Linked DNA regions of Homo sapiens: regions 1, 2, 4, 5, 6 and 7 are each reported to be linked to region 3. The links are microRNA targets in miRTarBase. Many come from high-throughput screens and were not tested one by one. Region 3 holds a microRNA gene; each other region holds the end of a gene's coding sequence.
What was found. Region 3 holds the annotated microRNA hsa-miR-4722-3p (ACCUGCCAGCACCUCCCUGCAG, at 2,127-2,148, shown strand). A microRNA usually pairs through its seed, bases 2 to 8, with sites in the 3' UTR of a target mRNA and lowers its output. Matches are read on the target gene's strand: a 7mer-m8 pairs with bases 2 to 8, a 7mer-A1 pairs with bases 2 to 7 and ends in A, and an 8mer does both.

Region 1 (4,066 bases), not on the chromosome of region 3:
TACATTTCTAGTTGAAGAATAAATCCTGCCCCCTAAATATTACTTGGAATAATTTGAACTTCTTTGACATATTTCTAAGTGTGTTTGGAAAATCTTAAGGATTATACTTGTACGCAGGCAATTGTTCAGAGCAAAAAAATTTTTTTCTTTATTGATATCACTGTGGCCATTATACCACTGGATAAATAAGCTTACTACTTGATACTAGTTTTTGACACTAGTTTTTTAAAACATGCAGGTGAAGCTGTTTTAGTGAGCTGACCCAATGTTCATTATATTTAGTTTCTTTGTTGGTCGAAAGTCAGAAATAGCTATCATAGTGTTATACTGAAATTTTAGAAAGAGAAAACACAAATATTGTGGTCCTAATAATGTTTGCTTTCTCTCTGTCTTAGGGATGATAGAAACAGCACAAGTGGATGAGAGAGCAAAAGGCAATGGCTCTAGTCAGCCGGGAACTGCAAGGCGAGGTGTACAGATTATTGATGATGAACCTCAAGCCCAGACCAGTGGTGGAGGGTGCTGTTCTTCTGGATAACTGTTCACGCCTAAGAAATTAAAAGACAGAACAAAACTGTGGATCATTGCCCTCAACATGAAGACTGCCATATTCCAAGTCACATTATTTTACCAATGGAATTATAGAATTAACAGTATTTTAAATTACGTTTATAACACTGCAGAGACCTTAAGTGCTAAACTTAGTGGAGTTTGTGACCAGAGAATTGGCATTTTCTACAAATGTTTTTTTTTGTTTTTTTTTTGTTTTTTTTTGTTTTTTTTTGAGACGGAGTCTCGCTCTGTCACCCAGGCTGGAGTGCACTGGCTTGATCTCGGCTCACTGCAAGCTCCACCTCCCAGGTTCACGCCATTCTCCTGCCTCAGCCTCCCGAGTAGCTGGGACTATAGGCGCCCACCACGACGCCCGGCTAATTTTTTGTATTTTTAGTAGAGACGGGGTTTCACCAGGTTAGCCAGGATGGTCTCGATCTCCTGACCTTGTGATCCGCCCGCCTCGGCCTCCCAAAGTGCTGGGATTACAGGCGTGAGCCACCGTGCCCGGCCTACAAATGTTAACAAAGCAATTACCAATGGCCTTTTTACATATTTTTTCTTTAATGAGGAATAATATGCATGTAGAAAAGACCTACTTAAAGTCTTCATTTATATTCTTTCAAATCAAATCTTTATTTAATAACTTATATATGTTGTTGGAATGGTTACATTTTTGCAGCCCTTTGTATTTTGTGGTAGTTGAAATTGTATCACTTCTAAACAGCAAACTGTTTTTGTTTTTAATTAGCAGATATCTGAAGTACTATTTTTGCAGGGTTTGCACAGGCCCGTAACTGTCTACTACTTTGATATAATCTGTATACATCCTGTATGCTGAGCTGGTAAAATACATTGTAAATTACATATTAAATATTTTATCTGCTTTTACAAGCGCAAGGTGCAAAAATATATACAATAGTCTCATTGATGACTGTAAAGTGAATTAACATTTGGTGATTATGCCTAGCTTTTTTGACTAATATAAAGATCATAGCTCCCCTTCACTTCTGTCTTAACTTGAACATGGCGTGTTTAAATTTTCATACATACTTTACTTGAATTATTGCTGTTGTCACATATTTTTGCCTCTGTGAGTTCATCTGATGATTGAGCAGTAGCATTTGCCTTTTGGGTTTTTTGTTTGTTATTATAGAAGAGATGACTTCTGCTGATTTTGCTTTAGAATGGTTACCTTAGAAGAATTTGGGTGGCTCATGTTGAATTTCACTTCTGCAATAGCTTTCATTTTCTCATAGGCTTTATAAGAGATGGGTTCAGTGGTATGAGCAGAGGAAGAGATCCCAGATAGTAGCCAGTTAACCAAGACTCATTCATATAGCACGTAGTTTATGTTCCTGAGGCAGCACTTTTAGATCCTTTGTGAGCAAGTTCTATTTGTTCATTGCTTGCCAGAGATGAACACAGAATGTTCTGTTTCATTTTACAAGAACTATCCTGAGTTTCTGTGGATGGAAACATTACATGTAATGCAGATATAGTGAACACTGGAAAGATTTATTAAAGAATTATATTTGTGTATACTTTATAAATTAGTCCCTCATTAGATTTTTTTTTCTTAAGCATAAGACTGAACTTAAATGTGTTAATTTTAGTAGAATCAGGCACTGCTCGCAGAAGGAACACAGATTGTAGAGATTAACATAAATTGTTCTTGTTCTAATATATATATTTTTTCATTTCTGTCGTGCTTGGAAAACTAGTAAATATTATGTCTAAGATAAAATGGAATGGCCCCTGGATTTACTTCTTATAAGAAGCAGTAGTATGTAATAAAGCTATTAGCATGAGCAATTAAGAGGCTATAAAGAGATTATAGTTACAAAAGAAATACTGCCATATTTTTAAGTTAATAACTTAAACCTTCTCAAATGGGTTAAAAGTTGAATGAATTGACACCCTGATGTTATGATGTTGGAATTTTAACTTAAACTGGGAGGCATTCTGTGAGCCTTCACTTTACCTTCTTTAATTATTGTCCTTGCTAAACTCAACACAGACTTTTCTGTTATGTGTTTTTGAGGAAGTTGGGGTGGGAAGAGTCAGGGAGATAAGCTAAAATTGTCTTCTTTTATGGGGTAATTGTACTCTGTAGTCTCTTGGTTTCCTGTGAAGTTAGTATTTATGTGGGGGTGGGGGAAGGTAGCAAGAATCATGGGTATCACGGTACTTTGTTTTTGACCTCCTGGCTCTTTCAGACAGAGTGAAGAAAGCTTTTCCATTCTTACTGTTGTAGAAGTAGATAGGAAATAAGCTTTTCTCATTACAGTGAAATATGTTTTAAAAACTAGAGTAGCTGGGCACAGAGGCATGCATTTGTAGGGCCAGCTACTTGGGAGAGTGAGGCAGGAGGATCACTTGAGGCCAGGATTTCAAATCCAGCCTAGGTAACACTGAGACCTCCATCTCGTAAAAGGCACAAAAACTAGTTAGAGATGAAATTGAGCTTTATTTTAAAAAAACGTTCTAAAGCCTGATAATTGGAGAGCTATACTTCAGCTTTTCATCCTACTTTAATGAAACAGCTAGATAGGAACCTCTGCTCCAGAATTGCCAGATAATTATTGGTGGGTCATAACTATTCTTCATATTTTTTTTTTCTTTTTTCTCCTTTGGTTTCTGTGTTATCTTTCTTAACCTCACGTATTTCTTTATCCTTTTTAGTGGGGGCCTGTAATTGAGGCTAATTCAATAGCAACAATAGACAACATGATATGGCTGCTGTCACTTTGAAACCCAAAAGGTCTTTGGGTAGGAATAGAGTAATGAAAGAGGACCAGTCAACTTCAGTATATATACAAAGGAAAGACAAAGAGATGATAAACCAAGGCTGAGGAAATTTTTCTGATGCTTTCTTCATTTCTCTAATATACCTTTTGCATTCTTTTTCTGATAATTGTGCTATTAGGCAGAAGACACAAGTTACCACGTTGTGTATTAAAAGCAGTAGGTAGGTTGTGCCAGTATTTTTTCAGCCAGTAAGCATATACAGTTAACTTATATAATTAAAAATTGGTTTAAGATAGTGATTAAAAATACCTGAATATTATGTTAAAAGTATACAATCATTGTTTCTGTAATGATGATGGGTATTCTGCTTCTTGTTTTTCATTGTAATTACAGGGGAAGATTGTTTTTGAAAATGTATATTGCCATGCTTTTGGGGTAAGCAGTAATGTGAAAAGAAAAAAGCATTATGTTATTGTATGAAATATAAGTGTTCAGATTTGTTTTGTCTGGGGTGTTGCCTAAGAATACCCTAAAGCTATGGCTGTTACTGCATTGAAATCTTTTTTTTTTTTAATAGTAGCCATATGTTATTAGTGGAGTACTTTATATTTGACATTAAAGTGAAGAAGAAGAGTAGTACTTCACTTTTAGGTTTTTAGTAGTGAAAGATAAAATTGGAAAAATAGGGAAAGAGCATAGGGAGGAATAGAATGGAAGTCAAGTAAATAAAAAACTACAACCTGACAGTTTTTTAAATCACTTT
Region 2 (4,058 bases), not on the chromosome of region 3:
ATTCCACAATGATACTGTGATTGAAGTAAACAATAGAAATGGAAAGAAAACTAAAAGGCCACGTGTCATTGTGGATTATAACGAGAATATGGGAGCAGTGGACTCGGCTGATCAAATGCTTACTTCTTATCCATCTGAGCGCAAAAGACACAAGGTTTGGTATAAGAAATTCTTTCACCATCTTCTACACATTACAGTGCTGAACTCCTACATCCTGTTCAAGAAGGATAATCCTGAGCACACGATGAGCCATATAAACTTCAGACTGGCATTGATTGAAAGAATGCTGGAAAAGCATCACAAGCCAGGGCAGCAACATCTTCGAGGTCGTCCTTGCTCCGATGATGTCACACCTCTTCGTCTGTCTGGAAGACATTTCCCCAAGAGCATACCAGCAACGTCCGGGAAACAGAATCCAACTGGTCGCTGCAAAATTTGCTGCTCCCAATACGACAAGGATGGCAAGAAGATCCGGAAAGAAACGCGCTATTTTTGTGCCGAATGTGATGTTCCGCTTTGTGTTGTTCCGTGCTTTGAAATTTACCACACGAAAAAAAATTATTAAATACCGATCATCATACACATCTGTTCCATTAGGATTAGAGACAAGTTCTGTTTAGAAATAACTCCAAGATTGGGAGGCCGACCTGGGTGGATCACCTGAGATCAGGAATTCAAGACCAGCCTGGCCAACATGGTGAAACCCTGTCTCTACTAAAAATACAACAATTAGCTGGATGTGGTGGCACATGCCTGTAATCCAAGCTACTTGGGAGGCTGAGGCAGGAGAATTGCTTGAACCCATGAGGCGGAGGTTGCAGTGAGCTGAGATCACACCACTGCACTCCAGCCTGGGTGACATAGCGAGACTCCATCTCAAAAAAAAGAAATAACTCCAAGAACAGTTTTGTTGTTTTTGTTTTGTTTTGTTTTGTTTTGAGACGGAGTTTCACTCTTGTTGCCCAGGCTGGAGTGCAATGGCATGATATTGGCTCACTGTAACCTCCACCTCCCAGGTTCAAGCGATTCTCGTGCCTCAGCCTCCCTAGTAGCTGGGATTACAGGCATGTGCCACCACACCCACCTAATTTTGCATTTTTAGTAGAGACTGGGTTTATCCATGTTGGTCAGGCTAGTCTTGACCTCCCGACCTCAGGTGATCCGCCTATCTGGGCCTCACAAAGTCCTGGGATTATAGGCATGAGCCACTGCGCCTAGCACCAAGAACAGTTTTTATATTTTATTTTCACATTGAAAATCAGTCAGATTTGCTTCAGCCTCAAAGAGGGTGTTTATGTAAAACTAAATGAGTGCAGGCAGCGAGCTACACTTTTTTTTTTCCTAAATGGAAAATGGGAAGGAGATACTGTCTCTGAACAAAAATAGCTGGAAAAACACATAACTGTTAACTAAGGGTTGCCTCTAGTGAAAAGGATTGGAAGACAATTTATCTGATGCTACACTATTCTTCCTGTTGTGATTGTTTTACTGTGAACATAACAAGGTTGTATTGGGGAGGAGGGCAGGGGTTGATTGCTGCCAATGTTGATTGCTGAGGCCTTAGCCAAGATTTCAGGCATCATTTGCTCCAGTCCTTTCATTTTCTTTATGGTGGAAAGTGAAGTGACTTGCCCAAGATCTTTGTTGGCCCTAAACATCGCTGTCTCTGCTACAGATTCCTATTGAGAGCAATGCATGTTTTAGCCTTGTGCACTCTTAGAGTCAGCATCATGGGAAAGAGTAACAGCAATTGAAAAAAGAGATTCAAGAGCCAAGTACTCAGCCCTGGCAGGGGATGGGGACATGATGCCCAGAGCCACCCCTATACTCCAGTCTCCCTGGCATCAGCTACTGCAGTACTGGGGTACTTGCCTTCATCTTTTTTCTGAAGATAGTTACTTCTTCATATTTGATCATCGGAAGGAGCAGCATTGCTCAGAAACACACACACACACACACACACTTGACTTTCTTGTCTGCCAAATAAATTTCTTATTTGCTAGGGAACTGGTAATCTAGGCTCAAGAAGTGTGTGGAGAAGGTTTATTTTCATTCTTTTTACTTTAAAATATGCCTTAGTTTTTGAATAGATAAGACATTCAAGTGTCAGAAAGTAAAAGTCAGTTCAGGACTGAGAAAGGAAAGATCAGTGCTGATTTTAATCAGACTGTAATGTACCAACTAGATACAGACAGGGCCAGTGGCAAGGCCATCAGAAAACTTCTTCCCAAGGCCACACCACACCTGCAAAATGCCTAACAACCTTCTTCTTTTCAGTGATTACCACTTTCTTACCAATGACTTCGCTTTGTTCCTCGTGCCTCTGAACAGACTGCTGAGATACCCAATCAAGAGCCAATCCTTGCTTCCCTAGACTCTCCTCAATCATTCAACAGAAGCCCAAATCTTGTAAAAGTTCCTTTCTGGGCCGGGCACAGTGGCTCACGCCTGTAATCCCAGCACTTTGGAAGGCCGAGATGGGCGAATCACAAGGTCAGGAGTTTGAGACTAGCCTGGCCAACATGGTGAAACCCTGTCTCTACTAAAAATACAAAAAAAAATTAGCTGGGCATAGTGGTGGGTGCCTGTAATCCCAGCTACTTGGGAGGCTGAGACAGGAGAATCACTTGAACCCGGGAGGCAGAGGTTGCAGTGAGCCAAGATCGCACCACTGCACTCCAGCCCTGGCGACAGAGTGAGACTCCATCTCAAAAAATAAAAAAGTTTCCTTCTGTTCCCTCTTACTGTTATATCCTTGGTTTCTCTGGTGTGGGGTCTTCCTTACAGCAGCAAGCTCATAAACTTAACTTGACCGCAGGTGTGTTCCTTGGTGGTCTTTATCTGATAGACTTTGTCACATGGTACAATATTCAAAAGGCACATGGTACAATATTCAAAAGGCACATGGTACAATATTCAAAAGGTATGAGTATACAAAAAAAATCTCCCACCTACTTCTCTCCCTAGTCACCCAATTCTCAAGAGGCAATCACTGTTGCCATTTTCCTGAGTATTCTTCCACAGATAGTCAACTATCTACAGAAAAATATATACATTAAAAATAAGGCCAGGCACAGTGGCATGCCTGTAGTCCCAGCTACTCAGAAGGTTGAAGCAGGAGGATCACTTGAGGCCAGGAGGGCCAGGAATTTGAAGCTGTAGTGTGCTATGATAGCAGGCCTGTGAATAGCCATTGCACTCCATCCTGGGCAACATAGCCAGACCCTGTCTCTAAAAAAAAAAAAAAAAAAAAAAAAGACAAAAAAACAAATCCATATATACATATATATGTATATATATAGTATGCTACCAGTTGTGTGAAAAAAGGGGCAAAATATATATTTATTTAACTTATATACAAATAACATTCTAGAAATAAATTGTTTAATATAAAATACACTAATATATAATAATGTATTACCTAACATATGATTATATATAACTATAATGTGTACTGTTTTACATACATATTTCCAAAGTATACTATAAATGCACTTCCGCACTTTGCTCTTTTTACTAAATATATCTTGGAAATCATCCTTTATTCGTACATAAAAAGCTTCATAGTTCCTTTTTATGGCTGCAAAATGTTCCAGCTTATGGATGGACTGATTCTCTATCGAGCAACATTAAGATTGTGTCCTATTTTACTATTCCTAATTTTGCTGAAGTGAATTTCTTTTGCCATGTGATTTCCACAGGTGTATATATGTAGCGTAATTAGTACTAGTAGAAAGTAGAATTGCTAGATCAAAGAGTATGTGCCTTTGTAATTTTGATGATATTGTGAAATCTTCTTCCACAGAAGTTGTTGCAACTTTCACTCTCACCAGCAATGTGTAAGATAACTTGCTTCTTCATACCCTCACCAACAATGAGCTATCAAATGTTATTTTTGCCAAGCAAATAAATTAAAAGTGATATCTCAGTTTTTGTTTGTTTGTTTGTTTTTTGAGACAGAGTTTCACTCTTTGTTGCCCAGGCTGGAGTGCAGTGGCGTGATCTCGGCTCACTGTAACCTCCGCCTCCCAGGTTCAAACGATTCTCCTGTCTCACCC
Region 3 (4,064 bases):
CCAGGCACGCCGGTGTACACGTCTGTGTGCCCGTGCCCCTGGTCCTGTGGCTGCACGCCAGGGCCGGAAGTGCTGGTGGTGGTTTCCATCATGAGGAGCTGCTGGTTTTCCATAGCAGCTCCACCATCTAAGGTTCCCACCACCAACACGAGGTTGCGGTTTCTCCACATCCTCAACAACCTGTTACTATGTCTTTTTTGTTCTGGCCATGCTGCTGAACGGGTGGCTTGCTGTGGGCTCTTCTCAGTTCCCTGTTGACCGACGCTGAGCGTCTTTTCATGTGCTTGGCCATTTGTGTATCTTCTCTGGGGAAATGTCTATTCAAATCCTTTCTCCATAGTTTAGTTGGGCTTTTGAGATAGGATCTCAGGCTGAAGTGCAGTGGCATGACCTTCACTCACTGTAGCCTCTGCCTCCCAGGTTCAAGCGATTCTCCCACCTCAGCCTCCCGAGTAGCTGGGACTACAGGTGTGCACCACCAGGCCTGGCTAGTCTTTTGTATTTTTGGCCAGGTTCGTCTCAAACTCCTGACCTCAAAGTGCTGGGATGACAAGTGTGAGCCGCCACACCCAGCAGTTGGGTTGTTTTTTATTAGAGTTTTTTCTGTTTTTCTGCAGATACATTGGCTAGAAATGACTGAATTGGAAGAATTCTCTGTATTCTCTGGTTGCTAGAACCTTATCAATTAAAATTTGCAGAAAATTTCTCCAATTCTATGGACTGTCTCTTAAATTTTCTTGGTGTCTTTGGAAGCACAAAGTATTTATTTTGGTAATATCTGGTTTACTTTGTTTCCTTCGCCAAATCCAGGTTCATGAAGATTTGCCCGTTTTCTTCTAAAAGTTCTATAGTTTTAGCTCTGAAGTTTCGCTCTTTGATCCACTTTGAGGTAAATTTTGGCACATGGTATGAGGCAGGAGTTGCGTTTCATTCTCCTGCCTGGGGCGGTGCCTGCACCGTGTTGAAAAAGGTTGTCCGTTCCCACTGAACGGTCACAGCTCCCTTGTCTAAGATCAACGACCCCTGAACATGAGGGTTCCAACTGGACTCTTAGTTCTACTCCACTGGCCTGTGTCTGCCCACCATTACTACCGCTGTGCCATACTGAGGTCAGGCTGGGGCTTTTCTGGGCTGCTGGGTGAGCTGGAGAATGCGGTTGTGTGACCCGCAGGAAGGGCAGAGCTGAGCGTATGACCTGTGTCGTTCCCCTCCAGAAATACCCGCAGCCCAAAGGGCAGAAGAAGAAGAAGATCGTCAAGTACGGCATGGGTGGCCTCATCATCCTCTTCCTCATCGCCATCATCTGGTTCCCACTGCTCTTCATGTCGCTGGTGCGCTCCGTGGTTGGGGTTGTCAACCAGCCCATCGATGTCACCGTCACCCTGAAGCTGGGCGGCTATGAGGTGAGCATGTGTGGGTCCGCCTGTCCATTCCCATCCCCTGGGGGTTCTGGCCAAGGTGGTGCACCACCCCCAGCCGCTCCTCCACGCTCATCTTCGTGGCCCCGTGTCCCCGTGCCTGCCCCAGCCGCTGTTCACCATGAGCGCCCAGCAGCCGTCCATCATCCCCTTCACGGCCCAGGCCTATGAGGAGCTGTCCCGGCAGTTTGACCCCCAGCCGGTAAGTGGCCTCTGCCCTGTGAAAGCTGGTGTGGGGAGGCGGCTGCAGTCACTGAGGGTGTCACTTGTACCCAGCTGGCCATGCAGTTCATCAGCCAGTACAGCCCTGAGGACATCGTCACGGCGCAGATTGAGGGCAGCTCCGGGGCGCTGTGGCGCATCAGTCCCCCCAGCCGTGCCCAGATGAAGCGGGAGCTCTACAACGGCACGGCCGACATCACCCTGCGCTTCACCTGGAACTTCCAGAGGTTCGTCCTGGACTTGGGGCAGTGCCTGGGTGGGTGGACCCACTACAGTGGGTCACGCTGTGTTCCCACCCCCAGGGACCTGGCGAAGGGAGGCACTGTGGAGTATGCCAACGAGAAGCACATGCTGGCCCTGGCCCCCAACAGCACTGCACGGCGGCAGCTGGCCAGCCTGCTCGAGGGCACCTCGGACCAGTCTGTGTGAGTGAAGGGCCCGGGTGGTGGGCAGGAGGGCTGTGCCAGGTTGGCTGGGCCAGGCCTGACCTGCCAGCACCTCCCTGCAGGGTCATCCCTAATCTCTTCCCCAAGTACATCCGTGCCCCCAACGGGCCCGAAGCCAACCCTGTGAAGCAGCTGCAGCCCAGTGAGTATGGGCGTGGGGGTTGGGGGAGGCTAGAGAGGGGTGACCTGCGGCCTCAACGATCTTCTCCCTCCATCCCAGATGAGGAGGCCGACTACCTCGGCGTGCGTATCCAGCTGCGGAGGGAGCAGGGTGCGGGGGCCACCGGCTTCCTCGAATGGTGGGTCATCGAGCTGCAGGAGTGCCGGACCGACTGCAACCTGCTGCCCATGGTCATTTTCAGTGACAAGGTCAGCCCACCGAGCCTCGGCTTCCTGGCTGGCTACGGGTGAGTGAGTGGCTGGGGGGGCACCCCGCAGCTCGGGGGGCTCCGGGCGGCCCCAGGACTCACCAGCTTCCCCCGCAGCATCATGGGGCTGTACGTGTCCATCGTGCTGGTCATCGGCAAGTTCGTGCGCGGATTCTTCAGCGAGATCTCGCACTCCATTATGTTCGAGGAGCTGCCGTGCGTGGACCGCATCCTCAAGCTCTGCCAGGACATCTTCCTGGTGCGGGAGACTCGGGAGCTGGAGCTGGAGGAGGAGTTGTACGCCAAGCTCATCTTCCTCTACCGCTCACCGGAGACCATGATCAAGTGGACTCGTGAGAAGGAGTAGGAGCTGCTGCTGGCGCCCGAGAGGGAAGGAGCCGGCCTGCTGGGCAGCGTGGCCACAAGGGGCGGCACTCCTCAGGCCGGGGGAGCCACTGCCCCGTCCAAGGCCGCCAGCTGTGATGCATCCTCCCGGCCTGCCTGAGCCCTGATGCTGCTGTCAGAGAAGGACACTGCGTCCCCACGGCCTGCGTGGCGCTGCCGTCCCCCACGTGTACTGTAGAGTTTTTTTTTTAATTAAAAAATGTTTTATTTATACAAATGGACAATCAGAGGCCAGTCCCCCGTCCTTGCCTTCCGGCTCCAGTGTGGTGTACCAGGTGGCCACTGCCTGCTGTCCCGGCAAGCACGTCCTCACGCTCAGCTCTGGCCCGCCTCGTCGTCACTGTCCTCAATCAGACAGTCCCGGATCTCCTGCAAGCCCCAGGCCCTAGAGAGAAAGCTGCAGTGGGCACCAGCCCCGAGGCCCCTTACCCACGCGCCACGGCAGTGTGGGCCCCAGTACCTCTGTGTGCGGAGCTGGGCCTCAGCCAGGATGTACGGCGGCAGGGGGTCCAGTGAGGGCTGCAACAGAGGCCGGTGTCGAGGGGCCAAGAAACCTGCCAGCACCCCCTCAAGCCACCCACGAGGTGACGGCCTTCCCGCGTCCCCAAGCCCGGCCCAGGACAGGTGGGCACGTACTCACCAAGTCCTTCATGTTCACGCGGCAGCTGTAGCACAGCTGCTCCTCAATGCAGGCTTGGGGGTCCTCCCTGCGGGAGCAGAGCTGGCTGTGTGCCCACCTTGGCACCTCAATGCCGTGCAGTGTGGGGTAAGGACAGGTCCCCCTCCCGCCCCATGCAGCTGGCCATGGGTGGCAGGGACAGGGACTCACCTCCTGCAGGCCCCCTGGCCACAGCGCTGGGCCCAGCCCACCCCTGGAGAACAGCAGGGCCCCGGGGGTGTCCGGGTCTCAGTCAGGGGGATGGGTGACTGCATCTGGGAGAGACGCGAGGAGGTCTGAGCCCCAAAAGCCGTGGCACTGTCTGCAAGCAGAGAGGGGGTGACGGAGCCTGGGGCTGCTGAGCCCCCACACCCACTCCCTGGCTCCCTCCCCGCATCACCCCAAGAGCATGAAACACAGACCAGCGGCGTCGACGTCCAGGGCACACATGCAGAGGAGGCAGCGGGGGCCGGAGTCGCCAGCAGCAGGGCCATCCCGGGGGCCCTTCACCAGCTTCTCACTTGTCCTGTGGCCGGATTGTGGGAGG
Region 4 (4,066 bases), not on the chromosome of region 3:
TTACATGTTAGAAAACTGAGGTTAGAGAGGATAAGTTACTTAAGGTCACGCAATTCGTAAGTTGTACAATTAGGACTCAAATTTGGGTCTGTTTGATCTTAAAGTTCATGCTCTTAAATACTTCATCACACTAGCTCCTCTGGGGGCTTTGGGTGTCCTGGGATTTGGAGGTGGCGGCGCTTCAGGGTCAGTCACTGGATTGCTTTTCGGCTTTGCTAAAGTCCTGTCTGTGGAGGAGAGTAAAGTCAGGATGGTTCCACGCATGCCACGGGTAGTGGGGTGATGGGGGAGGCCCCTTTCCCAGCCCTGGTGCTCAGTGGCTCTGCTTCCTTTCCAGAGCCCCCTGAGCGGGACTCCACGGTGGCCGTGATTGTGGGTGCCTCCGTCGGGGGCTTCCTGGCTGTGGTCATCTTGGTGCTGATGGTGGTCAAGTGTGTGAGGAGAAAAAAAGAGCAGAAGCTGAGCACAGATGACCTGAAGACCGAGGAGGAGGGCAAGACGGACGGTGAAGGCAACCCGGATGATGGCGCCAAGTAGTGGGTGGCCGGCCCTGCAGCCTCCCGTGTCCCGTCTCCTCCCCTCTCCGCCCTGTACAGTGACCCTGCCTGCTCGCTCTTGGTGTGCTTCCCGTGACCTAGGACCCCAGGGCCCACCTGGGGCCTCCTGAACCCCCGACTTCGTATCTCCCACCCTGCACCAAGAGTGACCCACTCTCTTCCATCCGAGAAACCTGCCATGCTCTGGGACGTGTGGGCCCTGGGGAGAGGAGAGAAAGGGCTCCCACCTGCCAGTCCCTGGGGGGAGGCAGGAGGCACATGTGAGGGTCCCCAGAGAGAAGGGAGTGGGTGGGCAGGGGTAGAGGAGGGGGCCGCTGTCCACCTGCCCAGTGCTTGGCCTGGCAGTGGCTTCAGAGAGGACCTGGTGGGGAGGGAGGGCTTTCCTGTGCTGACAGCGCTCCCTCAGGAGGGCCTTGGCCTGGCACGGCTGTGCTCCTCCCCTGCTCCCAGCCCAGAGCAGCCATCAGGCTGGAGGTGACGATGAGTTCCTGAAACTTGGAGGGGCATGTTAAAGGGATGACTGTGCATTCCAGGGCACTGACGGAAAGCCAGGGCTGCAGGCAAAGCTGGACATGTGCCCTGGCCCAGGAGGCCATGTTGGGCCCTCGTTTCCATTGCTAGTGGCCTCCTTGGGGCTCCCGTTGGCTCCTAATCCCTTAGGACTGTGGATGAGGCCAGACTGGAAGAGCAGCTCCAGGTAGGGGGCCATGTTTCCCAGCGGGGACCCACCAACAGAGGCCAGTTTCAAAGTCAGCTGAGGGGCTGAGGGGTGGGGCTCCATGGTGAATGCAGGTTGCTGCAGGCTCTGCCTTCTCCATGGGGTAACCACCCTCGCCTGGGCAGGGGCAGCCAAGGCTGGGAAATGAGGAGGCCATGCACAGGGTGGGGCAGCTTTCTTTGGGGCTTCAGTGAGAACTCTCCCAGTTGCCCTTGGTGGGGTTTCCACCTGGCTTTTGGCTACAGAGAGGGAAGGGAAAGCCTGAGGCCGGCATAAGGGGAGGCCTTGGAACCTGAGCTGCCAATGCCAGCCCTGTCCCATCTGCAGCCACACTACTCGCTCCTCTCCCAACAACTCCCTTCGTGGGGACAAAAGTGACAATTGTAGGCCAGGCACAGTGGCTCACGCCTGTAATCCCAGCACTTTGGGAGGCCAAGGCGGGTGGATTACCTCCATCTGTTTAGTAGAAATGGGCAAAACCCCATCTCTACTAAAAATACAAGAATTAGCTGGGCGTGGTGGCGTGTGCCTGTAATCCCAGCTATTTGGGAGGCTGAGGCAGGAGAATCGCTTGAGCCCGGGAAGCAGAGGTTGCAGTGAACTGAGATAGTGATAGTGCCACTGCAATTCAGCCTGGGTGACATAGAGAGACTCCATCTCAAAAAAAAAAAAAAAAAAAAAAAAAGGCAATTGTGCGGAGCCAACCATCACTGCCATTACACTCACATTCAATGGAAATTGATTAGGCCTGAGAGAAGGAGCAAGAGGCAGAAACACTGACTCTGAGACCATGACCTTGGAAGATCCTCAGAGATCAACTAGCCAAGTCACTCACTTAAAATGGGGAAACTGAGGTTCCAACTGACAGAAACTGAGGGTCCTGCCCTCTTCTCTGGCTCCTCAGTCTCCAGTTTGAAGCAACAGAGCCATCATTTTCCCAGTGGGAGGGGCCTCTGTGTCCTGGTCTATGATGGGGCGAGTTGGAGGGGTGGGCTTCTCTAGCCCTGCCCCCTCCCAGGAGCCCAGCCCCTCTGGCCAGGACTGAGGAGGAGTGGAGGGAAGCAGGGAGGGAGGGAGCAAGTGTGAAGGGCACAGCTGCTGGCAAATGCCCCATTCCCTGCCCCAGCACTTCCCAGCCTTTCCAGGAGCTCTGCCCCACCCCTACTCAAGGAGTCAGGTGCCCAGGGTAGGGAATAAGTCTAGGAAAGGGGGTGGAGACAGGACCGTGACAGTCTCAGGGACCAATCCCTGCCTCTGCCCATCAGATTGCCAATTTGGGGAGACAGCAATATCATCTGGGAGATTCAGCTTAATTTGCTTCAATTCAGCAACCATTTATTGAGCATCTATTATGTGCCAGGCACTGTGCCGGGCACTGGGGATATACACAAAGCCATAAGCACTGGGGACTGCCAGGTTGGCACTGTAGGGACCAAGATTAACTTTTTGGTGCATCTAATTCCACCTCTGCAAGACACTGCTTCCAAGGCTACAGTTGGGGAAGATGAAGAGATTCTAGAATCTGTGCCCTGGGAAGGGAGAAACAGCAGGGAAGAGGGGCAATACAACAGGGTCAAGGGTGCAGAGGCCAGGCAGAGTGGGTGCAGAGTGGGGGATGGGCAACCAGCCTGGTAACACCTGGGTGAGGTGAGCGAGTCAAGCCCATCTGGAAATGCTAAACTCATCAGCTCAGTACCTAACTGCCAATCAACACACTGCCAATGCGGGTGGGCTAAGCCGCCAGGATGCCTGCAGCAGATGGACGCTGCCCATCCTTGAGCCAGCCAGCTGGGGGCAGAGAGGTGGGTGGCGGGCACCTCATGCCAGCTGAGACCAAGAGTGGTTGTATACATTTCTGCAGCTTGCAGATTTCATTTTTTTGGTCACCCTTTAAGTGTCCTTCTCTCCCAGGATGAGTGAGGAGCTGTGCTGATGTTGGGAACTTATCTTTTTCCAGGATCCATAACATTTAGGGGAATTATTTGCGGGCTTTCCTAGTGTATTCTAAGAAGTTCTAACTCTCCATCAAGAAGCCCAAGATTCCTGGAGTCTTTTTTTCCTCTGCCCTGATCAACTGGGGCCCAGGAAAAGCAATGTCTCTTCACGGGCCTCAGGGCCCCAGCAGATGGGGCTGGGTCAGGAACCATCTCTGTCCCAGGTGCTCAGCCCTCATATGCATTTTCTTCTGGAGCCTCTTAGAATCTCCTCCAGAGGACTCATAGAGCTGCCTCCCCCAGGATGGTGAAGTTGGGAGCAAAATGGGGCTTCTGTAAGTAGAGGTGGAAAACCAGAGAGATGTTTCCACAGCAGCCATTTCCCTACCCTGTTTCCTAACTTATGCTGACAAGTTCTTCCTCTTCCTACCGTGGGGTTCGAGCCCCACTTCTGGTTGCATGTTCCCACCACCACGCTCTGCTGGTTTTAGTCGGCTGACTTTCTCAACTGCCCCAGCCTCTCCTGCTCTCTCAGAACCTCCCTCTGCCCCCACCCCCCATCTGTCTCTTCCTCCTAATTAAGGGCCACTGCAAAGAGAGACGGGCTGGCTAACCCATGGGATTTAGCTTATAAGAACAAAGCACAATTATTCAGGACTGAACTGCTTTGAGGTGCCTTGGAACTGGCTTTGGAAATAGCTATCTGCCCCCTAGCTATGGACTCTTCACAGTTATTTCCAGTTTATAAAAAGGAAAAGCTGATCGGATCCATGTTTCTCTCTGCGAGTCTCCTTGGGGAGGTTGGGCTGGTAAATATTTGCAAGGTCAGGTTAAGCAGACAGACAATTGAAAATACT
Region 5 (4,066 bases), not on the chromosome of region 3:
TCCCTGACATTATGTTCCATGTGCTTTGTTTTTCTGTGGCCTGTCTCCCACTAGAAGGTCAGCTCTCCAAAAGCAGCCATCACTGTCTCATTCATGGCTGTCTCCCCAGAACCTAGAATAGGGCTGTCCACAACAGATGCTCAATAAATCTTCATTGAATTGATGAACAAACCAATTATTGGCACACTCTTCTCTCCAATCCCCTGTATCCAAACCAGAAACAAATTCTGTCAATGTTTTGTTCTAGAGTGTTGCTCTGTTGCCCAGGCTGGAGTGCAGTGGCATGACCTCGGCTGAATGCAACCTCTGCCTCCCGGATTCAAGCGATTCTCCTGTCTCAACCTACCACCACTCCCGGCTAATTTTTGTATTTTTAGTAGAGACTGTATTTCAGCATGTTGGCCAGGCTGGCCTTGAACTCCTACCTCAAGTAATCCGTCTGCCTTGGTCTCCCAAAGTTCTGGGATTATAGGCGTCTGCCACCATGGATTTCAGTCCTCCTGTCTGCAGAGCCAGGAGTTTGAGACCAGCCTGGCCAGCATGGTGAAACTTGTCTCTACTGAAAATACAAAAAAAAAAAAAAAAGTAGCCGGGTGAGGTGGTGTGCACCTGTAGTTCAGCTACTTGGTAGGCTGAGGCAGGAGAATTGCTTGAGCCTGGGAGGCGTAGGTTGTAGTGAGCTGAGATCGCACCACTGCACTCCAGCCTCGGCGACAGAGCAAGACTCAAAAAAGAAAAGTCTCAAAAAAGAAAAAAAAAAAAAGAGAGAGAAAAGATGGAATCCCCTCACACTCCTAGCCCTGAGCCCTGGCTACCTGGCTGGCTTGGTTGACCCTCTTAGCAAGGCGGTCAAAGGCCCAGGCATTTGGTGTCTGGAGCGGTCTGAGGATGGAGAAGTCTCCCAGAGAGTATTTGCATACTGAGTCAGCATGAGACGCAACTTCTCCTTCTGTGATTTCTTCCTCATCCTCTAGATTAGTTTCCCATTTCCTGTAAAAAATTGCCACAAATTTAGTGGCTTAAAACAACACAAGTTTGTTATCTTATAGTTCTGGAGGTCAAGAATCCAAAATGGGTCTCACTGCACTAAAGCCAAGGTTTCAGCGGGACTGTGTTGCTTTCTGGAGGTTGTAGGAAGAAAATCCATTTTCTTGCCTTTCCTCAATTCTGATTTTTTTTTTTTTTTTAAGACAGAGTCTCGCTCTGTCACCCAGGCTGGAGTGCAATGGTGCAACCTTGGCTCACTGCAACCTCCGCCTCCTGGGTTCAAGCGATTCTCCTGCCTCTGCCTCTCCAGTAGCTGGCATTACAGGCACCCGCCACCACGCCTGGCTAATTTTTCTATGTTTGGTAGAGACGGGGTTTCCCCATCTTGGCCAGGCTGATTCTTGAACTCCTGACCTCAGGTGATCCCCCTGTCTCGGCCTCCCAAAGTGCTGGGATTCCAGGCATGAGCCACCACCCTCGGTTCTGTTTTTTTTTTTTTTTTTTTTTGTAGAGACGGGGTCTTGCTATGTTGCCCAGGCTGGTCTCCAACTCCTGGCCTCAAGCGATCCTCCCACCTTGGCCTCCCAAAGTGCTGGGACTGCAGGCGTGAGCCACTGAGCTTGGCCCTCCTCCAGCTTCTAGAAGTTTCTTGCATTCCTTAGCTCAAGGCCCCCTTCCGTCTTCAACACTCACGATGGCCCATGGACTCTCTCACACTCAATCATTCTGACTCTGAAGTGCTGCTTGACTTTCAGCTCCTTCTCCCGTCTTCAAAGGGCTTTGCTTCCTTTGTTGTCACAGCCCCTCTGACTCACGCTTCCTGTGTCCTTCTCGATTATAAGGATCTGTGTGATTACATAAAGAGCCTGCCAGGGCAATCCAGGATAATCTCCCCAAAGCACGATCCTGAACTTAATCATGGCTGCATTCTTTTGTCATATAACGTAACATTCACAGGGGATTAGGATGTAGACGTCACTGGGGGGCCGTTATTCGCCTTTCACAGCACCCTGCCCCTCAAAGCCACAGTCTCGGCAGTGCCTTACCTGGCCCTGCGCCATGTGCCCCTCCGTCCATCTCCTGACGTCAACTTCCACCCACCTTTTCCTCCTTCCCCACCCTCTCCACCACACTGGCCTCCTTGCTGCTCCTTTTTTTTTTTTTTTTTTGAGGTGGAGTCTTGCTCTGTCACCCAGGCTGGAGTGCAGGGGCACGATCTTGGCCCACTGCAAACTCCGCCTCCCGGGTTCAAGTGATTTTCCTGCCTCAGCCTCCCCAGTTGCTGGGATTACAGGTGCCCACCACCATGCCCGGCTAATTTTTGTATTTTTAATAGAGAAGGGGTTTCACCATGTTGGCCAGGCTGGTCTTGAACCCCTGACCTCAAATGATCTGCTTGCCTTGGCTTCCCAAAGTGCTGGGATTATAGGTGTGAGCCACCATGCCCAGCCCCCTTGCTGCTCCTTGAATATGCCAGGCATGCTTCTGCCCCAGGGCCTTTGCACTGGCTATTCCCTCTGTCTGGAATGCTCTTCCTCCAGAGCCCCACATGGCTCCTTTCTTCCCCTCCTACAAGTCTTTGCTCATTTGTCACCTTCTCAGCGAGGACCTCTGTGCCCTAATTAAAAATCTCAGTCCCCCAATACTCTCGACCCCCCTCCATTTCCCCAATACACTTATCCCCATCTGACAGACAACGCATGTTCATTATTTATTTTATTTCCTGATTCTTTCCCCTGCCAAGTGACCCTCTGGGAAAGCGGGAGTTTTTGTTTTGCTTTCTACCAGGGCTGCAAGAGCCTAGAACTGGGTCTGGCATACAGCAAAGGCTCATTTATTGCTGAATGAATGCATAGTTTGGGGAAGGGGAGGACAAGCTGAGGCCACATTTGGGACGGGTGCTGGGGTGGGGTGGAGAAGGGAGCTGCTGCCCAGAGGGACTCAGTAAGATTCAGGGTGGGGGCCAAGACCAGCAGCTGGCAGCAGGTTCTGAGAGGGGCTGGGCCTGCCTGAACAGGGAAGGGGTCCAGCAGCCGTGGTCACCTTGCTGGGACTGGTGTGTGGGGCCACAGGCCTGTGAGGCTGGGCCTCTCTGCCACCTGAGGCCCGCATGGTGGGGTGTCTGCCTTGTCCTAAGGGGAGAAGACTCTGAGGGTCACTAGTGGAGTTGGGGTAGGGCATTGAGGACAGACAGTTGGGAGCCCAGCCAACTGCCTGGGAGGCAGGCCTGAGGCCACCATCTTGTCCCCAGATATCCAGATCTTGGGGGACTTTGGCATGGAAAGGGGCCAGAGCCTGCCTTTCACAGGCACATGGCCCAGGCCAGCTTGCTTGAAGGAACAGACCGAAGGCGGGCGTGCATTCACGGGCTGCACAAGGACCTGGGCCTGTTACAGTCTCCTGTCCCCCTGCCAGGACACCTGCCCCATGTGCTGCTGAGTCTTTGGCTGAGTCCACCTCATCGGCCCCACAGCCCCCAATGGCCTTGTCCTGCTGGTCTCAGGTGTGAGGCTCCCAGAGGAGGGCTGGGGCCTTGTCTTCTCCCTGGCTGGCCTGGCCCAGGACCCATCAGGAAGTTGGCACCAGCTGGCAGTAGGGGGCAGGGTCGGGGTTTAGCAGGTCCTGCTTGGGGGGAAGAGAGAACAGAATTATGACTGGGTGGAGGGGGAGAGTCTTGGGGAGACAGAGAGGGACAGAGGATGAGAGACAGCGTGAGATGGAGAGAAACCCGCAGAGAGAATGGAAGAGCAAGGTGGAAAGAGAGTGAGATGCAGAGACAAGAGGTCCTGGAAGAGCCAAGAAATGAGGTGGACACAGTGACAGAGACAAAGAGGCAGGAGAGACAGAGAATGGAGAGAGAGAGAGACAGAGATGCAGAGAAACGAAGACATGTAAAGAGATGCATCTTAGACAAGGCAGCATGAACAAACTGGAAACAGAAAGACAGATTAAAAAGGACACAGCAAGAGAAACTGAGAGAGAGAGAGAGAGAGAGAGAGAGAGTCCAAGAAAGGGGAAGACAGACATACAGACATATGTAGGCCACTGAGAGAGAGAGACAGAACTACAGGGACAGACA
Region 6 (4,066 bases), not on the chromosome of region 3:
GAACTCCTGACCTCAAGAGATCCACCCACCTTAGCCTCCCAAAGTGCTTGAGATTACAGGAATGAGCCATCACGCCTGATTTAAAGTATTTTAATGCGAGCTGTTAAGTATGTTAGCATCTGCCTGGGTTCTTATCGGTCAGTCATTACATAGACCCCAAATCATAAAGGTGTTCTAGTTTTATATCTATGGGGAAGGCTGGAAAATTACCACAAGGGGAGAGAGAGAAGGTGGTGTAAAAAGGCAGCCTAACTAACTATTTTTAAAAGCAGATCAGGAGATACAGGAGCTAGGTGAGATGCTGTGGACAGTGCATGAGGTTCAATTGTGAAAACCGATGTCCTCATTAATGACAGAGAGAACTCTGTCCCTCCATATACTTGGCTGGGCCATCATCAGTCCAGGGTCTCTTATACTTGGAGTTTTCCAGATGTTTGTTTCATGAAGCACACTTTACCAAAATTTAGGAAAAGAAGAGAAAGATCTCAACTTTAAGGTAATATACTTTTGGCTATAAATACAGGCAACTAAAAACAATGTATAAACTCTCATTCTGCTTAGGTCTGTAAATACATGCTAATAACTGTTCGTAACTTTAAAAGGCTGCCTTGAATTTTGTCTTACTGTTGCTGCAAAAGAGACTGTGAGGAGAGAAACACCTGACACTTTCAGAGACTGGGAGGGAGGGAAACAAAGTTGGGGGAGTGGGCAGCTGAGTCACAGGAACAGGGCAAGAGACTGAGCTGGGCAGCCTGGGAAGGTGCCACTCCCCTCTCAGTGTTCTTCATCTCCTCCCTTTCTTCTCCACCTGCTGGGAAGAACCACCTGAATGCCTACTCATTAGAGACTACTTTGCATCAAGCTGCAAATACCTCTGAGAAGTACTGCTGTCACTCAGTGATGGTTCTGGTTGAAATCTGATGTCAGTGTGGATGGCTGGTAACTCGAGTGCAGAGTATGTTAGGACTGAGTTATAGAGAAGACAATGGGAAGGTACCAAAACACTCTTAAAAAATTGTAGGTCAAGAGCTCTGTACACCTACTCATCCTTTTATTCTTGGGACCCATAATCAGGCTAGAACTAGAACAGTGTTTGGACACAGTACAGGGTAAACTTATGTTCAAGAATTTTGGATCCCATAATAGAGCATCGGGGAGAATGCTGATTTCCAAACAAACAACTAACATACTTTGGGATACAGTATTCACTTTTTTTTTTTTTTTTTTTTAGATGGAGTTTCACTCTTGTCACCCAGTCTGGAGTGCAATGGTGCAATCTTGGCTCACTGCAACGTCCGCCTCCTGGGTTCGAGCGATTCTCCTGTCTCGGCCTCCTAAGTAGCTGGGATTACAGGTGCATCCTACCACACCTGGCTAATTTTTGTATTTTTAGTAGAGACGAGGTTTCACCATGTTGTCCAGCCTGGTCTCAAACTCCTGACCGCAGGTTATCTGCCCACCTTGGCCTCCCAAAGTAAGTGCTGGGATTACAGGCGTGAGCCACCGTGCCCAGCTGGTATTCTCAAATTGAGACAGCTTCCTTTGAATTTTTCTACTTTATGAAAAGTTGCTATGTATAAATACTGTAATTCTAGCCTCTGCTTTACTGAAGCCTTTTCCCCCAGTAAACTGTGGAGTACTCACAGGTTCACAAAGAAGAACTGAACCTCAGGTAAGCTATAAAAAGAAACAAAGCAACTGTGGTGTTACTTCTGTTGGAAAATTTAAAAAAAGCAGTTATCCAACTTTCAATTCCATTTATAAAATGTAAAAATTCAAAAGTATACAACATAGTTCACTGATATCCCAACAATTCATTGCCTTTTAAGATCAAATAGCTGATTACCTGTTTCTAAACTTGAATTATTGTCTAGTGAGTAAAAACTGAAGGCAAACAGAGTGTTTTGTGGAACTGGGAAAAAAATGGATTCTGTGGTGATCTCTAGATGGTACACTGGATGATAAGGGTGTTTTTTTCAGATCACCTAAAGAAGTCAGAACACTGCCTTCCTCTTAACCTCTAAGGTAGTTCCATATTTCTCAAGGAGGGCAAAGTTTACAAATACCCCTTTAAATCCTTATTTCAATACTGTAGAATTTGTGTCTTATATTTAAAGGGTGACTTATTCATTATGAATGGGGCTGGGAGATTATAATGTATGCCTTAAATAACTCTGTAGAATGTGTGTAAGTAAGCTTGATTGAGGAGTTTTCAATCATTAGGATAATGTAAGAAATATAAAAATACTGTAAATAATAAGATAAAGCTTTCAAACGTATTTTCTAGTAATACTTAGAAATATCCACCTGAAATATTGGTCTGAATGCAAAGACATCAAACATAGGGTAACTTTACTTGGTAGATAGGAGAAATATTTTAAATCGACAAAATTTTCTAAATTTCAGTGTCTTTCTCCATTACTTTCATTTTGAGACTAGAGCTTGTGTAACTGACACCATAATTTTGCAAGATTGTTGTATTATATTTTAAGATTGAAAATGATTTCATCATAATCCATCCCCACCCCACACTCCCTGCTCCCTTCCCTGAGTCCCTTTCCTCCAAGCGTGTTGATATAAAATGAGTTGCGTCTTAATGTTTTGTTTTCTTAAAAACCAAATGCTATACCTTATGTTCAGACAATTGTGGGGCATGGAAATGGAAGTGCAACAAAGGACTAAGGCACCTTTTCTTCTTTCCTTTCCTTTCCTTGTTTGCCTTGGGGATGGAAACAAACACCACAAGAACAGCCAGGGTGGCTGGTCGGTCTTATGTCTCTTGACAATCTACGTACCAGCCACTTTCACTGGGTACTCTGTGTCACAGGCTGATAAGCCACAGACTTCAAACCCTGCTAGGAAAGAACTTTCTTCTTTTAGAAATACAGAAATAAAGGTACAACACAGTACCTTACATGGGGAAATTGGTGAATACCTGAAAATCTTAATGATTTAGGAATAATTTTGAAGTGTTCTGGATTATTTTACAACAGAAGTCACCTCTTTCTTGATTATGACACCCAAGAATATGTATTTATAGTTGTCTTCTTCCCAGCCAGACCCATAACCATAAATCTTCCTCCAATTAATAATCCCTGGTACTAGATGTCTGAGTGTTTATCAGCTTGACTTACCAGCAGATATTGCCTTAGGAATTGTATTTATTTTTTAAATGATGGATCAAATGGATCAATATAGTGTTTTCAAATGAGTAATCCTTGAAAATGACCCATTTGGGGACAACACTGTAAGCAAAAGCACTGGGAAATATACTTCAAGAGTTAGAAACATATCAAGGATTATAGATTCTTCTATAATAATGTGCAAAATCAGAATATCGTTTGTGTCATCTAGATACAAACCTTAGTATGGCCCCAATGCTGATCAGTGGTTGGAAAGGCTTTTTACATTAGGAAACACTGTTCTCTGAGACAGTAGTAGTAGTTTAAGTGGGGCTAGTGGTGGGGAAAATGCAACAGCTGTATTGGCAGGACTCTAACCCTCACTACTGTTATTTGGTGGGAGAGTAGAACAGGAGTCGGCTACACAATGATGTCATAGACACGGCCCACCCTGCCCAGCCACTCCCTCACAGCCTGGCGAACTCTGATGTCGGTCACGTGACAGGTCAGCTGACTGATGCACGGGAACACTGCGGGCTGGAGGGCCGTGAAGGTCTGGTCTGGGAGAATCTGAATCTGATTGAGAACTGTTAGCACCATGTTGGTCCATGCCTAAGAGAAAAGATTTAAGAAAATCAGTGGCTTTCCCCCCTGGTTTTATTTGAACACTTGAGAGTGGCCCTGCCAATGTGGAAATGGTTTTTTTCCAGGCTTTAGTTGCAATAAATTAGTTTTCACTCATTTAATATGCCTATAATAAATTGTAGGCGTATTAATTTATTATGCCTACATCATAACTTCACATACATAAAGATGGGCAGAGACTCGCCTTATTTTCAGCTTTCACAAACTACTAAACTCTTACTTATTCCTTAGATTTAAAAACAACAACAACAACAAACCTCCCTTGCCTTCTCACAGTGAGATCTCCACAGGCCGTTAAT
Region 7 (4,055 bases), not on the chromosome of region 3:
ATACTGGAGAGAAACCTTACAAATGTGAAGAATGTGACACAGTTTTCAGTCGCAAATCACACCATGAAACACATAAGAGAATTCATACTGGAGAGAAACCTTACAAATGTGATGATTTTGACGAGGCCTTCAGTCAAGCTTCATCTTATGCAAAACAAAGGAGAATTCATATGGGAGAGAAACATCACAAGTGTGATGATTGTGGCAAAGCCTTTACTTCACATTCACATCGCATTAGACATCAGAGAATCCATACCGGACAGAAATCTTACAAATGTCATAAGCGTGGCAAGGTCTTCAGTTAGAGGTCACTCCTTGCAAAACATCAGAAAATTCATTCCTGAGATAATTGTTCCAAATGCAATGAGTATAGCAAACCATCAAGCATTAATTGACATTAGAGTCAATTCAGCATTGACTTGAGTTTCAGTTGACTTGACATTGAGTTCAAGCATTAATTGACATTAAAGTGTTTACGTTAAGAGGATTGGGCTGGGCAGGGTGGCTTATACCTGTAATCCCAGCACTGTGGGAGGTCAAGACGGATAGATCACTTGAGGTCAGGAGTTTGAGACCATCCTGGCCAAAAGACGTGAGCCACTTTTCCTAGCCTGTTTTTTGTTTCTGATAGGGATTTTTATGGGTATTGTGTTGAATCTAAATCACATTGGGTTATATAATCATTTAACAATATTAATCTTTCCAATCCATCAATATGGGTCATATCTCTATTTATATAAGTTTTTAATCATTTTGATCAATGTTTGTAGATTTCAAGGTACAAACTTCTCACCTTTTTACGTTTATTCCTAAATATTTCTTACTGTAAGTTCTCTAGCAAATGGAAGTGTTTTCTTAATTTTCTTTTAACATTGTTTATTGTTAATGTATGGAAATTTAACTAATTTTTGGTACTGATATTGTATTCTGCAAATACACTGTGTTTATTAGCTTCAGTAGTATTTTAGTTGACTCTGTGATTTTCTACACAGCAGATCATGTCATCTACAAACAAATACAATTTTACTTCTTTCTTTCTGAAAAAAAAAATGGATAACTAATACAGATGCCTACCCTGAAACATGCCATTTTTTGATCCTTATGTTTTGGGATCTTTCTCACTACCACTGACCAACTTTTCATATCCTGAAGATATGAAGCAGTGAAAATAAGAGAATTCAAGACAGGCTAAAAAAAAAAAAATGCCAGGTGCAGTGGCTCATGCCTGTAATCCCAGCACTTTGGGTGGATCACTTGAGGTTAGGAGTTTGAGACCAGCCTGGTCAACATGGCAAAACCCCACCTCTACAAAAAATACAAAAATTAGCCAGGCGTAGTGGCACGCACCAGTAGTCCCAGCTACTGGGGAGGCTGAGGCAGGAGAATCACTTGAACCTGGGAGGCAGAGGTCGCAGTGAGCCAGGATCGCCCCACTGCACTCCAACCTAGGCAACAGAGCGAGACTCCATCTCAAAAAAAAAAAAAAAAAGATATGTCAGTGTGGTGTAGGCAAAAAGTATGGACACATAGAAATATGGAACAGAATAAATAATCTAGAAATAGTTTCATATGAATATAGTCACTTGATTTTGACAGAAATGCAAAGGCAATTCAATGCAGCTTTTTGTATTGGTTTCCTATTGCTACTATAAAATATTACCATAAACATAGTGGTTATTATAAAACAATACAACTTGATTATTTTACCGTTCTGGCAGTCAGAAGCCCAAAAATGGGTCTTACATGGTAAAATCAAGGTATCAGTAGAGCCATGTTGATTCTGGAGGCTCTAGGGGAGAATCTATTACTTGCCTTTTCCAGCATCTAGAGGCTGCCCACATTCCTTGGTTCCTGGTTTTTGGCCCCTTTCAGCAAGGACATCACTCCAATCTCTGGTTCTGTCATTGCATCTCCTTCTCTGACTCTGACCCTCCTGCATTTTTCATAAGGACCCTTGTGATTACATTGAGCACACCTGGATGATCTTTTCAACAAGTGATGGAACTAGACATCTATATGCAAAAAACAAACAAACCTTGGCCAGGCATGGTGACTCATGCCTGTAATCCCAGCACTTTGGGAGGCCAAGGCAGGAACATCACTTGAGGCTGGGATTTCAAGACCAGCTTGGGCTACATAGCAAGGTAACATCTGTCCAGAAAGTTTTTTAAATAAAATATTAGCTGGGTGTGGATGGCACATGCCTGTAGTCCTAGTTACTCAAGAGGCTGAGGCAGGAGTATCACTTGAACACAGAAGTTCAAAGCTGCAGTGAGCTGTGATCATGCCACTGCACTCCAGCCCAGGCAATAGAGCAAGACCCTGTCTCTAAAAAATAAACAAATACTGAAAATATTTACTCTACAAAAGATATGGGTAAGGAAATGAAAGGTGAGCCAAAGACGGGAAAATATTTGCAAATCATGTGTTTGACCAAGGACTTGTTTCCCGCATATTCAAAGAACCCTCAAAATGCAGAAGTAAGAAAACCTTATTTTATTTTATTTTATTTTATTTTATTTTATTTTATTTTATTTTATTTTATTTTATTTTTGAGACAGAGTTCACTCTTGTTGACCAGGCTGGAGTGCAATGGCACGATCTCAGCTCACCACAACTTCCACCTCCCAGGTTCAAGCACTTCTCCTGCCTCAGCCTCCCGGTAGCTGGGATTACAGGCATGCGCCACCATGCCCGGCTAATTTTGTATTTTTAGTAGAGACAGGGTTTCTCCATGTTGGTCAGGCTGGTTTCAAACTCCTGACCTCAGGTGATCCACCCGCCTCGGCCTCCCAAAGTGCTGGGATTACAGGCATGAGCCACCGCGCCCAGACAAGAAAACCCTTTTTTAATCACAAAAAATGTGAGCATTCACTTCACCAAATAAGATATACAGATGTCCGAAAAAGCACATCAAGAGATGTTCAACATTACTAGTCATTAGGGAAATACAAGTAAAACTACAATGAGATACTACTACATACCTATTAACATGACTACACACACATACACACACACACACACACACACACAAAACTGAGGATACCAAGTGCTGGTGAGGATGTGGAGTAATTGGAACTCTTACACATTGCTGGTGAGAGTGCAAAATAATACAGTCACTTTGGAAAACAGTTTGACAGTGTCTTTTAAAGTTAAACATACAATATGATCTAGTTATTCCACTTCTAGATATTTATACAAATATAATGAAAACCTATGTTTGTACAAAAAAAAACTTGTTTGTGAATGTTTATTGATGCCTTATTCATAATCATCAAAACCCGGAAACAACCCAAAGATCCCTCAACTGGGGAATGAATTAAAAATGTAAACCAACTATGGTACATGTATACAATAAATGAGTACTCAGCAATAAATGAGAGTAAACTATTGTTACATGCAATATTGCAAGTGAATCTCATATGCATTATGTTCAGTGAAAGAAGCCAGACTCAACCACACACTATATGATTTTCTTGATAATGACATTCTGGAAAAGGCAAAACTATAGGAACAGAGTTGAGAGTAGTGATTGCCAAGAGTTAAGAGTGGAGCAAGTGTTTGACTAGAAAGAGGTAGCTAGACAGAAATGTATTTGAACGTGGGTGGAGTGATGGAACTGTCCTATAACTTACTTGTGGCAGTGGTTACAAGAGCTCCAGGCCTCATAGAAACTCATAGACTGTCCACCAAAAATAGTGAAATTTATTAAATGTGAACTTCTCAAACAAATTTTTAAAAAAGAAAAAGGTATATGAGGTCAAATGTCCTGTATGCCTTCATGTTAGAGGATGAGTTCCCTATGTCAGGGAAAAAAAGGATGGATGGATGGATGGATGGATGGATGGATGGATGGATGGATGGTCTGCCAGCCTAACTGCATGCCTGCTGAAAATTTTCAGTGATATTTCTAAGATCTTTTGGGTAGGTGTGCAGATGTCTTTTCTATACACCTTCTTCAAGTGACAGTAATGTGAGCATTTGATTAAATGAGACACCAAATCAGAAAATTCTTTATAAATTGAAAGTGTACTGCAAACACCAGATATGTTACT

Region 1: miRTarBase lists RAB21 as a target of hsa-miR-4722-3p. Seed matches in the 3' UTR shown: 7mer-A1 at 2,918-2,924.
Region 2: the mRNA of PGBD4 is a reported target of hsa-miR-4722-3p. Seed matches in the 3' UTR shown: 7mer-A1 at 782-788 and 7mer-m8 at 1,787-1,793.
Region 4: miRTarBase lists SCN2B as a target of hsa-miR-4722-3p. Seed matches in the 3' UTR shown: 7mer-A1 at 804-810 and 7mer-A1 at 1,833-1,839.
Region 5: the mRNA of CEACAM19 is a reported target of hsa-miR-4722-3p. Seed matches in the 3' UTR shown: 7mer-m8 at 3,395-3,401 and 7mer-m8 at 2,723-2,729.
Region 6: miRTarBase lists ARFGEF3 as a target of hsa-miR-4722-3p. The part of its 3' UTR that is shown has no 7-base or 8-base seed match.
Region 7: the mRNA of ZNF860 is a reported target of hsa-miR-4722-3p. The part of its 3' UTR that is shown has no 7-base or 8-base seed match.

Annotation. Positions count from the first base shown.
Region 1 is chr12:71,785,136-71,789,201 of GRCh38, forward strand. It overlaps RAB21 (RAB21, member RAS oncogene family), which reads left to right. Exons shown (of 7, transcript NM_014999.4): 7 at 396-4,066. The coding sequence ends at 538. Among named protein-coding and RNA genes, the nearest start is that of RAB21, 32 kb to the left of the region's middle.
Region 2 is chr15:34,103,725-34,107,782 of GRCh38, forward strand. It overlaps PGBD4 (piggyBac transposable element derived 4), which reads left to right. Exons shown (of 1, transcript NM_152595.5): 1 at 1-4,058. The coding sequence ends at 565. Among named protein-coding and RNA genes, the nearest start is that of PGBD4, 3.7 kb to the left of the region's middle.
Region 3 is chr16:88,714,362-88,718,425 of GRCh38, reverse strand. It overlaps MIR4722 (microRNA 4722), which reads left to right and starts at 2,089; the gene lies at 2,089-2,148. It overlaps CTU2 (cytosolic thiouridylase subunit 2), which reads right to left. Exons shown (of 15, transcript NM_001012759.3): 11 at 3,940-4,043; 12 at 3,689-3,839; 13 at 3,500-3,566; 14 at 3,320-3,378; 15 at 3,030-3,244. The coding sequence ends at 3,175. PIEZO1 (piezo type mechanosensitive ion channel component 1 (Er blood group)) reads left to right here. Exons shown (of 51, transcript NM_001142864.4): 45 at 1,215-1,403; 46 at 1,528-1,620; 47 at 1,695-1,867; 48 at 1,943-2,065; 49 at 2,149-2,228; 50 at 2,307-2,493; 51 at 2,572-3,088. The coding sequence ends at 2,821.
Region 4 is chr11:118,163,358-118,167,423 of GRCh38, reverse strand. SCN2B (sodium voltage-gated channel beta subunit 2) reads left to right here. Exons shown (of 4, transcript NM_004588.5): 4 at 338-4,066. The coding sequence ends at 537. Among named protein-coding and RNA genes, the nearest start is that of SCN2B, 11 kb to the left of the region's middle.
Region 5 is chr19:44,682,980-44,687,045 of GRCh38, reverse strand. It overlaps CEACAM19 (CEA cell adhesion molecule 19), which reads right to left. Exons shown (of 8, transcript NM_001127893.3): 8 at 2,691-3,609. The coding sequence ends at 3,556. It overlaps LOC107985306 (a long non-coding RNA gene), which reads right to left and starts at 2,008. Exons shown (of 3, transcript XR_007067268.1): 1 at 816-2,008; 2 at 1-203. RefSeq lists an enhancer at 1,655-1,949.
Region 6 is chr6:138,335,963-138,340,028 of GRCh38, reverse strand. It overlaps ARFGEF3 (ARFGEF family member 3), which reads right to left. Exons shown (of 34, transcript NM_020340.5): 34 at 1-3,734. The coding sequence ends at 3,543. Among named protein-coding and RNA genes, the nearest start is that of SMIM28, 40 kb to the left of the region's middle.
Region 7 is chr3:31,990,674-31,994,728 of GRCh38, forward strand. It overlaps ZNF860 (zinc finger protein 860), which reads left to right. Exons shown (of 2, transcript NM_001137674.3): 2 at 1-1,050. The coding sequence ends at 305. It also overlaps a transcript of OSBPL10 not described here. Among named protein-coding and RNA genes, the nearest start is that of ZNF860, 11 kb to the left of the region's middle.